Linked DNA regions of Homo sapiens: region 2 is linked to region 1. The links come from fine-mapping of genetic effects on gene expression. A gene starts in region 1. The other region holds a variant in brackets. All regions are shown on one strand. Distances are from middle to middle. Region 1 holds the start of COX7A1 (cytochrome c oxidase subunit 7A1). Region 2 overlaps ZFP14 (ZFP14 zinc finger protein).

Region 1 (5,339 bases):
GAGAGGAGGGGTGGCTCGGGCTCTGGGTCCTGGGGAGCAGGGGAGGTAGTAGATTCGTCCCCAGGGCTGGATCCGTGGATTTCCTCGTCTTTTTCTCGTCGGCATTTTTTGTCTCATCCTGAGCTGTGGAGGCTGAGACAGGACCCAGAAGCCCCAGTGATCTCTGCTTCTGCTTCCAGAGTCTGGGCTGGAGGGAGGTCTCAATGCCACTCCTGGCCCTGTCCCCCAAGGCCATGTTTGCCCCTCTTGCAGCTTCTCCATCCACACTTGGCCTCTGCCTCTGTTGTGTCATGGACCATGCTCAGTGTCTTCCTTCCCACTTGAGGACACCACCCCACGTCCCCGGGTCCCGAGGGGGAGCCTATGGGTGCTGTTTGGGGTACTCAGCAGAGGGCTGAGAGGTAGCAACATCCTAGGAGTATCCCTGGTCCAGCATGAGGCACCGAGGGCTGGGGGCAGTGGGCAGTCCACAGGGCAGAGATCCCTGGCTGGTGGGAGGATGGGCTTGGTGGGGAGGGGTGGACACAAACACAGACACACACAGAGGCCAGCGTTTATTGACACTTGTTCAAGTCTCTCAGGCCCCCCAGGCTTCTTGGTCTTAATTCCTGGGGAAGGAGGCCCAGCCAAGGGAGTACAAGCTGTAGACAGTGCCTAGAAAGGGGAAGCGTTGGAGACAGAATGAGACCTAATCCCCTCCCTGGACATCCCAGGCTTTTAAGGCCTTCAGGCTCCCTGGTTCCCAGCCTGGACCCCAGCTCTAGTTCGGACTCCAGCTCCCTTCCCAGATTGGACTCCTATTGTAAAGCCCCCTGGCTTTGATCTAGACCGGGCTGGGAGCTTTCTCCCCGACTCCTCCCTGGGCCTCAGCCCCACCACTAACCCAGCCCCCGTCCTGGGACAAGAGCCCAAACCCTAGTTACTCCCCTCCCTGCAGGCCTGACTCCAGCTCAGTACTCGACCCCCTTCCTAAACGCCAACCCCCAACCCAGATCCTGGTCAGTCCTGCCCAGAAACCAGCCACCTCTTACTCTGGGTCCAGCCCCGCCTCCCCCGCAGCCCAGACGGGCCCTGCGCTCACCGCCCAGACACAGCGTCATTGTCACTCGGTACAGGATGTTGTCAACGATGCCGCCCTTCAGGTACAACGGGATGTCATTGTCCTCCTGGATGTGGGGGTGTCTGATGAGAAAGGGGTGCTGGCTGCTCCTTAGAGCGCGCCCCGCCTGCCCCGGCTCGGCGCGCTCCCGGCTGGCGCGTCGGATCCCCACCCCCCCCGACCCCCCACCTGGAAGAGCTTCTGTTTCTCGCGCACTCGGTTCTGAAAGCGGTTCCGGGCGGTGGAGCTGAAGGAGCGGATCAGCGCCTGGGACACCTGCGGGGTGGGAGGTGGGCGGGTATTGGAGGCACCTGGAGGGGTGTCCTGAAGTGGGACCCCGCTCTCTGAGGCCTGGACGTGGGGACAGCCCCATCCCTAGCGAGCGTCCCAAAGGCGAGGAGGGTAATAGCTTGGATTCTGTTACCCGCGAACTGCCAGCTGGGTTGGGAGGGGACTCGCCCTGGAGTCTGGCCTGGGGGTGACCGGGCTGCCTAGAGGGTCCTGGAAGGGAGAGGACCCAGAAGGACTTTGTTCTGGGGGGCCTAAGTCCTGAGATTTTTGTTGGGGGAGGGTTTCCTGGATTAAAGGGAGGAAACCAGGTCCCGGGAACGTGGGGACCGGAATGGAGGTCCCCGGGAGCGTCCAGGCTGCCTGAGAAGGCCCGGGTGAGGCCAGTGTTAAGGGTTCCCGAGATGTCAAGTTCAAACCCGGGGCTTTGGGCCGGGGTGGGGGTCCCCAGTTGTCTCCGAAGAGTGGATTGTGGGGGAAGGGACCCAGGCTGTTTAGCGGGGAGTCCCAGGCCCTGAAGGTGGCTCACGTTCCAAGGCCCTAGATGCGGGGGCACTTGGAGAGTCGCGTATTAGGGCGGGGTTTTCTGGGTGGGGGGCTCCGGCCCAGCCCATGGGGGCCTCACCCGAAGGGCCTGCATTCTGCCTTGTCCTCTTCCGCCGGAGTCACCTCCCTTCTCCGCCCAAGGACACGCGTAGTCCTCCTCTGTCCAGGAACCCCAGGCCCCACCCGCTGCGCGCAGCGTGACAGCTGGGGACGCGGCGGGGCTGGGGCTGGGGCTGGGGCTGGGTTGCGGGGAGTCCTGCTCCTCGGATTCGTCCACCACGGAGGAGGCGGTCCAGACCCGCACCCTGGGCCGCAGCGCGCATCCGTTTCGGTCTCGGAATTTCGCTTGGTCCCACCGGAGCCCAAAGCGGTACCAGGGAATACATTTTTGCAGATTTTTGGAGATTTCCGCCGGGGGCAAGTGCAACTCCTCCCCGGATCTCTCCCTGCCCGCTGGTATGTGAGAGTGAGGAAACGCATAAGGCCGTGTTCCAACTCCCTGTTCTGTCTACACAGCCAGAGATTGCACCTCCGAGCCTGTTTCCGTATCTGTAACGTGAGGGCTAAGGCAGGATCTTTCTCAGAGATTTGTTGAGACATTAAATGACCTTGTTTTTAGGAAACACAAGCTAAAGTCTTTGGGAGTAAAACGGTATTTTATGTTACCCTAAGAAACACATCATATCTATTTATAGCTCTCTAATTCTGGCAGTCAACGGGGTGCAGCACAGTTGTCCTAATGGTTTTAGCAACCAGGAAAGATCCTGGCCTAGTCTACAAGGTTTTCTTTTTCTTTTCTTTTTTTTCTTTTTTTTTTAGACAGGGTTTTGCTCTGTTGCACAGGCTGGAGTGCAGTGGTGCGGTCATAGCTCACTGCAGCCTCGACCTCCTGGGTTCAGCGATCCTCCTGCCTCAGCCTCCTGAGTGGCTGGGACTACAGGCGCCCACCACCATGCTCGAACTAATTTTCGTATTTTTTGTAGAGGCTGGGTTTCACCATGTTGCCCAGGCTGGTGTCGAACTCCTGAGCTCAAGAAATTTGCCGGCCTCATCGTGAGCCACGCACCCAGCCAGCAGACAATGTTTGTTTGTTTGTTTTTGAGGCAGTGTCTTGCTATGTTGCCCAGGGTGGTCTCCAACTCCTCCAAGTAATGTTCCTACCTCTATCACCCAAAGTGCTAGAATTAGAGGCATGAGCCACTATACCCAGCTTGTAAAAGGTTTTAACAATCTCTTTTATTTATTTATTTAATTTATATTTTTAGACAGAGTCTTGCTCTGTTGTACACGTTGGAGTGCAGTGGTGTGATCTCGGCTCACTGAAACCTTCTGCCTCCTGGGTTTAGGCAATTCTTGTACCTCAGCCTCCTGAGCAGCTGGGATTACAGGCACCCGCCACCACACCCAGCTCATTTTTGTATTTTTTAGTAGAGATGGGGTTACACCATGTTGGCCAGGCTGGTCTCAAGCTCCCAACCTCAGGTGATCCGCCCACTTTGGCCTTCCAAAGTGCTGGAATTACAGGCCTGAGCCACCGCTTCCAGCCACGGTCTCTTTTAAAGAGGGCTTTTATGATTATTAAATTCCCCTAACACTTTCAAACTATGCTTGTAAATTTAATGTTAGGTTTTTCCATTTAAGAGCCACAAGTAGGGCTGGGCGTGGTGGCTCACACCTGTAATCCCGGCACTTTGGGAGGCCAAGGCAGGTGGATCACTTGAGGCTGGGAGTTTGAGACCAGCCTGGTCAACATGACAAAACCCTGTCTCTACTAAAAATACTAAAATTAACCAGGTGTGGTCATGGGCGCCTACAATCCCAGCTGCTTGTGAGGCTGAGGCACAAAAATCGTTTGAACCCAAGAGGCACGGAGGCTGCAGTGAGCCAAGATTGCACCACTGCACTCCAGCTTGGGTGACAGAACGAGATTCTGTCTCAGAAAAAAAAAAAAAAAAAAGCTGACTTACCAGATAAACAGATGACTCTTTCTTCAATTCTTAAATAACTTTTATGAATAAAAAATTCATAAACTGTACATAAACAGATTTCAAGTAAGTCTTAGTCACCAGCTGAATTCCACATTTTACAATGGAATTACAAGATTGACCTGTTATTTGAATAGGCCAGTTTACCTTAAATATTACAAATTCTTAAAATACCAAGTATTCACAGATTCTCTAACACAAAGTTAATACCATGGGGGCCAGGCACTGTGGCTCACGCCAGTAATTCCAACACTTTGGGAGGCCGAGGTGGGTGGATCACCTGGGTCAGGAGTTCGAGACCAGCCTGGCCAGCATGGTGAAACCCCGTCTCTACTAAAAATACAAAAATTAGCCAGGCGTGGTGGTGGGTGCCTGTAATCCCAGATACTCCGGAGGCTGAGGCAGGAGAATCACTTGAACCTGGGAGGCGGAGGTTGCACTGAGCAGAGATTACGCCATTACACTCCAGCCCGGGCAAGAGAGCGAGACTCCATCTCAAAACAAAACAAAACAAACAAGTTAATACTATGGTTTTGACTGTCTTAATTTTCTTTTTTCTTTTTTGAGACGGAGTCTTGCTCAGTCACCCAGGCTGGAGTGCAGTGGCGCCATCTCGGCTCACTGCAAGCTCCGCCTCCCAGGTTCACGCCATTCTCCTGCCTCAGGCTCCCCAGTAGCTGGGACTACAGGCGCCCGCCACCACGTCCAGCTAAGTTTTTTTTTTGTATTTTTAGTAGAGACAGGGTTTCACCGTGTTAGCCAGGATGGTCTCAATCTCCTGACCTCGTGATCCACCCGCCTCGGCCTCCCAAAGTGCTGGGATTACAGGCGTGAGCCACCACGCCCAGCCTCTTTTTTTTCTATTTGAGATGAAGTCTCGCTCTGTCACCCAGGCTGGAGTGCAATGGCGCAATCTCTGCTCACTGCAGTCTCCGCCTCCCGGGTTCAAGTGATTCCCCTGCCTCAGCCTCCCAAGTAGCTGGGACTAGGTGCACGACACCACGCCTGGCTAATTTTTTGTATTTTAGTAGAGACGAGGTTTCACCATGTTGGCCAGGATGGTCACGAACTCCTGACCTCAGGTGATCCATCTGTCTCGGCCTCCCAAAGTGCTGGGATTACAGGCGTGACCCACTGTGCCTGTCCTGTTTTTCTTTCATTTTCTTTATTTGTTTATTTCATGCGCGTCCGTGTGAAGAGACCACCAAACAGGCTTTGTGTGAGCAACATGGCTGTTTATTTCACCTGGGTGCAGGCGGGCTGAGTCAGAAAAGAGAGTCAGCGAAGGGAGATAGGGATGGGGCCATTTTATAGGATTTGGGAAGGTAATGGAAAATTACTGTCAAAGGGGGTTGTGCTCTGGTGGGCAGGGGCGAAGGGGTCACAAAGTGCTCAGTGGGGGAGCTTCTGAGCCAGGAGAA
Region 2 (5,366 bases), 180 kb after region 1:
AAGCTTTCCTGCGCATTTTTGCGCTGGAATGGCTACCTGCCGCGCCAAATCAAAATTTACAATCACCCTTGGTGCTGTTTCCTGCACTTTCTTGGAGATTTGCACCAGGCGCTGGAGACCCTCCCACCTGGCCCATGCCTGCCACCCGGTGAACACCAAGACCCAACCTTCTGCACCACCAGTCTTGTTGTCAGCGAACAGGCTAGTAAATTATTGAAGGGGTGGCCTGCCCCTCCACACCTGTGGGTATTTCTCGTCAGGTGGAACGAGAGACTGAGAAAAGAAAGAGACACAGAGACAAAGTATAGAGAAAGAAAAGTGAGCCCAAGGGACCGGCGCTCAGCACACGGAGGACCTACAGGGACACTGGTCTCTGAGTTCCCTCAGTATTTATTGATCATTATCTCTACCATCTCGGAGAGGGGGATGTGGCAGGCCAATAGGGTAATAGTGGGGAGAGGGTCAGCAGGAAAACGTGAACAAAGGTCTCTGTGTCATAAATAAGTTTAAGGAAAGGTGCTGTGCCTTGATGTGCACTTATACAAACATCTCGGTGCATTAAAGAGCAGTATTGCCGCCAGCGTGTCTCACCTCCAGCCCTAAGGATGTTTTCTCCTATCTCAGTAAGTAGAACATACAATCGGGTTTTACACCAAGACATTCTATTGCCCAGGGACGAGCAGGAGACAGATGCCTTCCTCTTACCTCAACTGCAAAGAGGCCTTCCTCTTTTACTAATCCTCCTCAGCACAGACCCTTTTCGGGTGTCGGGCTGGGGGATGTCGGGCTGGGGGACAGTCAGGTCTTACCCTTCCCATGAGGCCATATCTCAGGCTATCACATGGGGAGAAATCTTGGACAATACCTGGCTTTCCTAGACAGAGGTCCCTGCGGCCTTCCGCAGTGTATTGTGTCCCTGGGTACTTGAGATTAGAGAATGGTGATGACTTTTAACAAGCATATTATCTTCAAGCACTTTTTTAACAAAGCATAGCCCTAAATCCATTGAACCTTGAGTCAACACAGCACATGTCTCTGTGAGCACAGGGTTGGGGCTAGGGTTACAGATTAACAGCATCTCAAGGCAGAAGAATTTTTCTTAGTACAGAACAAAATGGAATCTCTTATGTCTACTTCTTTCTACATAGACACAGTAACAGTCTGATCTCTCTTTTCCCCACAGAAGGGAAGGGAGGGAGGGAGGGAAAGAAAAAGAAACCTTAAGCATTTTTTACAGATGAGGGTTCTGCTCTCCCTTAGTTCAGCCATGCTGTGGGGGAAGGGGAAGGAGTGTGGTAAGATGGCAGAGGAGGAAATAAAATATGGATGGCTTCTGCCTTTTCAGTTCTTTTCCTCATTTCCTGGCTTACTGTCCCTGGTTTCTGACTGCTTTGTGGTGAAGCTTCAGAATTGGAGAGAAAAAGAGGCCAGAATTGGTGGCTTATGCCTATAATCCCAGCACTTTGGGAGGTCGAGGCAGGCAGATAACTTGAGGTCAGGTTATAAATGTTTAATACCTAAAATGATCAATACCTAAAAAAAAAATTTTTTTTTTGAGAGGGAGTCTCATTCTGTCACCCAGGCTGGAGTGCAGTGGCGCGATCTCGGCTCACTGCAACCTCTGCCTCCTGGGTTCAAGAGATTCTCCTGCCTCAGCCTCCCGAGTAGCTGGGATTACAGGTGAGCACCACCACGCCCAGCTAATTTTTGTATTTTTAGTAGAGATGGGGTTTCACCATGTTGGCCAGGCTGGTCTTGAACTCCTGACCTCAGGTGATCCACCTGCCTTGGCCTCTCAAAGTGCTGGGATTACAGGCGTGAGCCACCGCACCCGACCGATACTAAACTATTTTAAGAATCCTGAAAAATCAATAAATGAGAATGCAAAAAAAAATACAGCAAAGGCATCATTAAAAAGCACAGTAAACACGATTGGCCAATAAACGCATATGAACAGATGCTTGACTCACTTGTAATCAAGGTAATAATTTTTTTTTTTTTTGAAACCGGGTCTCACTCCAACACTCAGGCTGGAGTGCAGTGGCATGATCACAGCTTACTGCAGCCTTGACTTCCCAGACTCAAGTGATCCGTCCACCTCCGCCTCCCAAGTAGCTGAGACCACAGGCACATGCCACCGCACCCAACCAATTTTTGTATTTTCTGTAGAAATGGAGTTTTGCCATGTTGCCCAGCCTGGTCTCGTACTTCTGGGCTCAAGCAATCCTCCTGCCTTGGCCTTCCAAAGTGCTGGGATTATAGGTGTGAGCCACCGTGCCTGGCCCAGTGTAATAAATATTGAAACTTATAGCAGAGGTAGGGAAATATGAACACTGATATTCAATGATCAAAGGGATTCAAAACTGGAA[C/T]AATGGTGGAGCCACAATTTGGCAATAAGCAGTGAAGCTGAAAGTGTATACAGCCTATAACGAACAATTTCATTTCTAGGTAATACCTTAGATTCTTGACTCTTTAAGGAAATTAAAAAATACACAAAATGATATTCAATATAGCATCTTTATTACCACAGAAACTCATTTATGTCCTTAATCATTGTTTAATATAATATATAAGCATGTTTAACACAAACATATCAAGGATCGGGCTGGAATCTTTTCCATTCTATAGAAAAGCACTAACCATCCATTAAAGCAGGTAGCTACTTTCAGAGCATGATATGAGCTGCAAAAAATTGCCCTGACTTATGCCGCCCCCAACACAACCACTCACCATATCTAAAATTACACCCTTGAAGACATTCATTGTGGTTATGGTAGCATCTAACAAAGCTGTTCCTATTCCAGATATTCGGACTGAGAATTCCACAATAAATTTGAGATACACTCAGTTAAATAAAAATGTCTTTACTAAATCTTTGGCAAACTGATCATGTATACTTTGAATTCCTCAAAAGTAGATTTTTATTTTATTTTATTTGAGACTGAGTTTCACTCTTGTTGCCCAGGTTGGAGTGCAATGGCAAAATCTCAGCTCACTGCAATCTCCATTTCCTGGGTTCAAGCAATTCTCCTGCCTCAGCCTCCCAAGTAGCTGGGATTACAGGTGCAAGCCACCACGCCCAGCTAATTTTGTATTTTTAGTAGAGACAGGGTTTCACCATGTTGGCCAGGCTGGTCTCAAACTCCTGACCTCAAGTGATCTGCTCGCCTTGGCCTCCCAAAATGTTGGGATTACAGGCGTGAGCCACCGTGCCTGGCCAAAAGTAGATGTTTTATGTTTTGCTTCATTTGCCTATTTTCCCAAGAAATCTTTTTTTCAAATACCATCGAGAATTAATATTCCTTGAAGCAAACTTCTGGAGAATGTTGAATTTAGGGGTCAAACACAGGCTTTCTGGAGGTATTTGGTGCTTGGGAAAAGAAACACTGACCTATTAGCAAAGATAGATTTTGTAATAAATTCTAAATAAACTTTATTTAGAATTGTGAAAAATAGAATCTTCATAATGAAGGTGGTCTAGAATTTGCTTTCAGAAACTATCTTCATCTAATTTTTATTAGGATTATTTTACCTTGCAGAATTAATTGGTAAAATCTTTAGGATTATCTATTCCTTAAAGTTTTTATAAGTATCAGATTTTTTAAACAGGGAGTTCACACACACACACACACACACACATTTTTTGTTAATCTATTTGGGTTATACGGTGAGTTAATTGTAAAACATATTCCTTTTGGGGGAAAAATGCAATCCTACATTTTTACTTGTACTGGAATGAATATACACGTTTGTGCATGTGTGCATGTATAGTTTTACCATATTATGTTTATTATTTTTGAGACAGGTTCTCACTCTGTCACCCAGGCTGGAGTGCAGTGGCGTGATCTTGGTTCACCGCAACCTCTGCCTCCTGGGTTCAAGCAATTCTCCTGCCTCAGGCTCCCCAGTAGCTTAGATTACAGGTGCCCGCCACCATGACAGGCTAATTTTTGTATTTTTAGTAGAGATGGGGTTTTGCTATGTTGGTCAGGCTGGTCTCGAACTCCTGACTTCAAGTGATCCACCCACCTCGGCCTCCCAAAGTGCTGGGGTTACAGGTGTGAGCCACTGTGCCCGGCCTAGTTTTGCCTTATAATTTTAAAAATCTGCTTGATATAATCTAGAGTTGTGTCTCTTTTATCATCATTAATACTCTAAATGTATTATCTTTCATTTTCTCTTCCTTGATTATAACTGCCAAAATCTAATCACTATTAACATTGAATCAAGTCTAATATTCTCCATTCTCTTAATTTCTACTTTCTACTGTTACTTGGCTGTTCCTTTTTTTTTTTTTTTTTTTTTGACAGACTCTTGCTCTGTTACCCAGGCTGGAGTGCAGTGGCGCGATCTCAACTCACCACAAACTCCGCCTCCTGGATTCAAGTGATTCTCCTGCCTTAGCCTCCCAAGTAGCTGGGATTACAGGCATGCACCACCATGCCTGGCTAATTTTGTATCTTTAATAGAGATGGGGTTTCTCAGTGTTGGTCAGGCTGGTCTCAAAATCCCGACCTCAGGTGATCCACCTGCCATGGCCTCCCAAAGTGCTGGGATTACAGGCATGAGCCACCGCACCTGGCCACTTGGCTGTTCTTTACTTGGGTTGGTTTTATTTTGTTGTTTCCTTTTTCTTGACGGAAATACTTATTCATTCCCTCAACACATTCATCTGTGTGACAGGCCTGGTGTTGCTGCTGTGGGTAAGTGAAGAAGATGAAGACTGTATCCACAAATAAGATTTCCTTACCACATTACAGGGCATTAATTTGTCACTGAACAGAACTTTGATTATATCTGACAAGGTTAGATGTGCAGGCATCTCACTGTCATTCATTTCTACATAGTCTATAATTTTGGTTTTGATTTTAAACATTTTATTATTGAAATTTCAAACACATACAAAAGTAGAAATATTAGAACAATAAGTCTCCATGAACAAAACACTCCACTTAAATTATCAACATGTTGCCAATTTAGTTTCCAGCTCTCTTTGCCAATTATTTCTTTTGCTAGAATATTTTAATCCAAATGTGTCTATCTTCATTTCATAGTATGTATCTCATATCATACGATCTTTTATTTTTTATAATCACACTGACATAATCCCTAACCAAATTAATATATGTAAATATCATTTAATATTTAGTCCATGTCCACACTTCCCTCACTGTCTCCAAAATGGCTTTTTATGTTTTGTTCAAACCAGGTCCAAGTAATGCCAACATACTGAATTTAGTTGATATGTCTCTTTAAGTCTCTTTTAATCTGTTAATGGTTGCCCTTCCCCTTGTATTTTCATGCTACCTGTTAGTTGAAGAAATCAGGTAATTTGCTCTGTAGAATTTCACACATTCTGGATCTGT

Evidence for each region. PIP is the estimated chance that this variant, and not a neighbour inherited with it, causes the effect.
Region 2: its variant is the best candidate, but not a certain one, in a credible set for the expression of COX7A1 in thyroid (GTEx, PIP 0.67).

The regions. Positions count from the first base shown.
Region 1 is chr19:36,150,381-36,155,719 of GRCh38, forward strand. It overlaps COX7A1 (cytochrome c oxidase subunit 7A1), which reads right to left and starts at 2,067. Exons shown (of 4, transcript NM_001864.4): 1 at 2,013-2,067; 2 at 1,289-1,375; 3 at 1,082-1,166; 4 at 542-654. The coding sequence starts at 2,027. The coding sequence ends at 602. RefSeq lists an enhancer at 4,963-5,339.
Region 2 is chr19:36,331,955-36,337,320 of GRCh38, forward strand. It overlaps ZFP14 (ZFP14 zinc finger protein), which reads right to left. Exons shown (of 5, transcript NM_020917.3): 5 at 2,499-5,366. Among named protein-coding and RNA genes, the nearest start is that of LINC00665, 2.9 kb to the left of the region's middle. The variant C/T (reference allele first, on the strand shown) is at 2,370.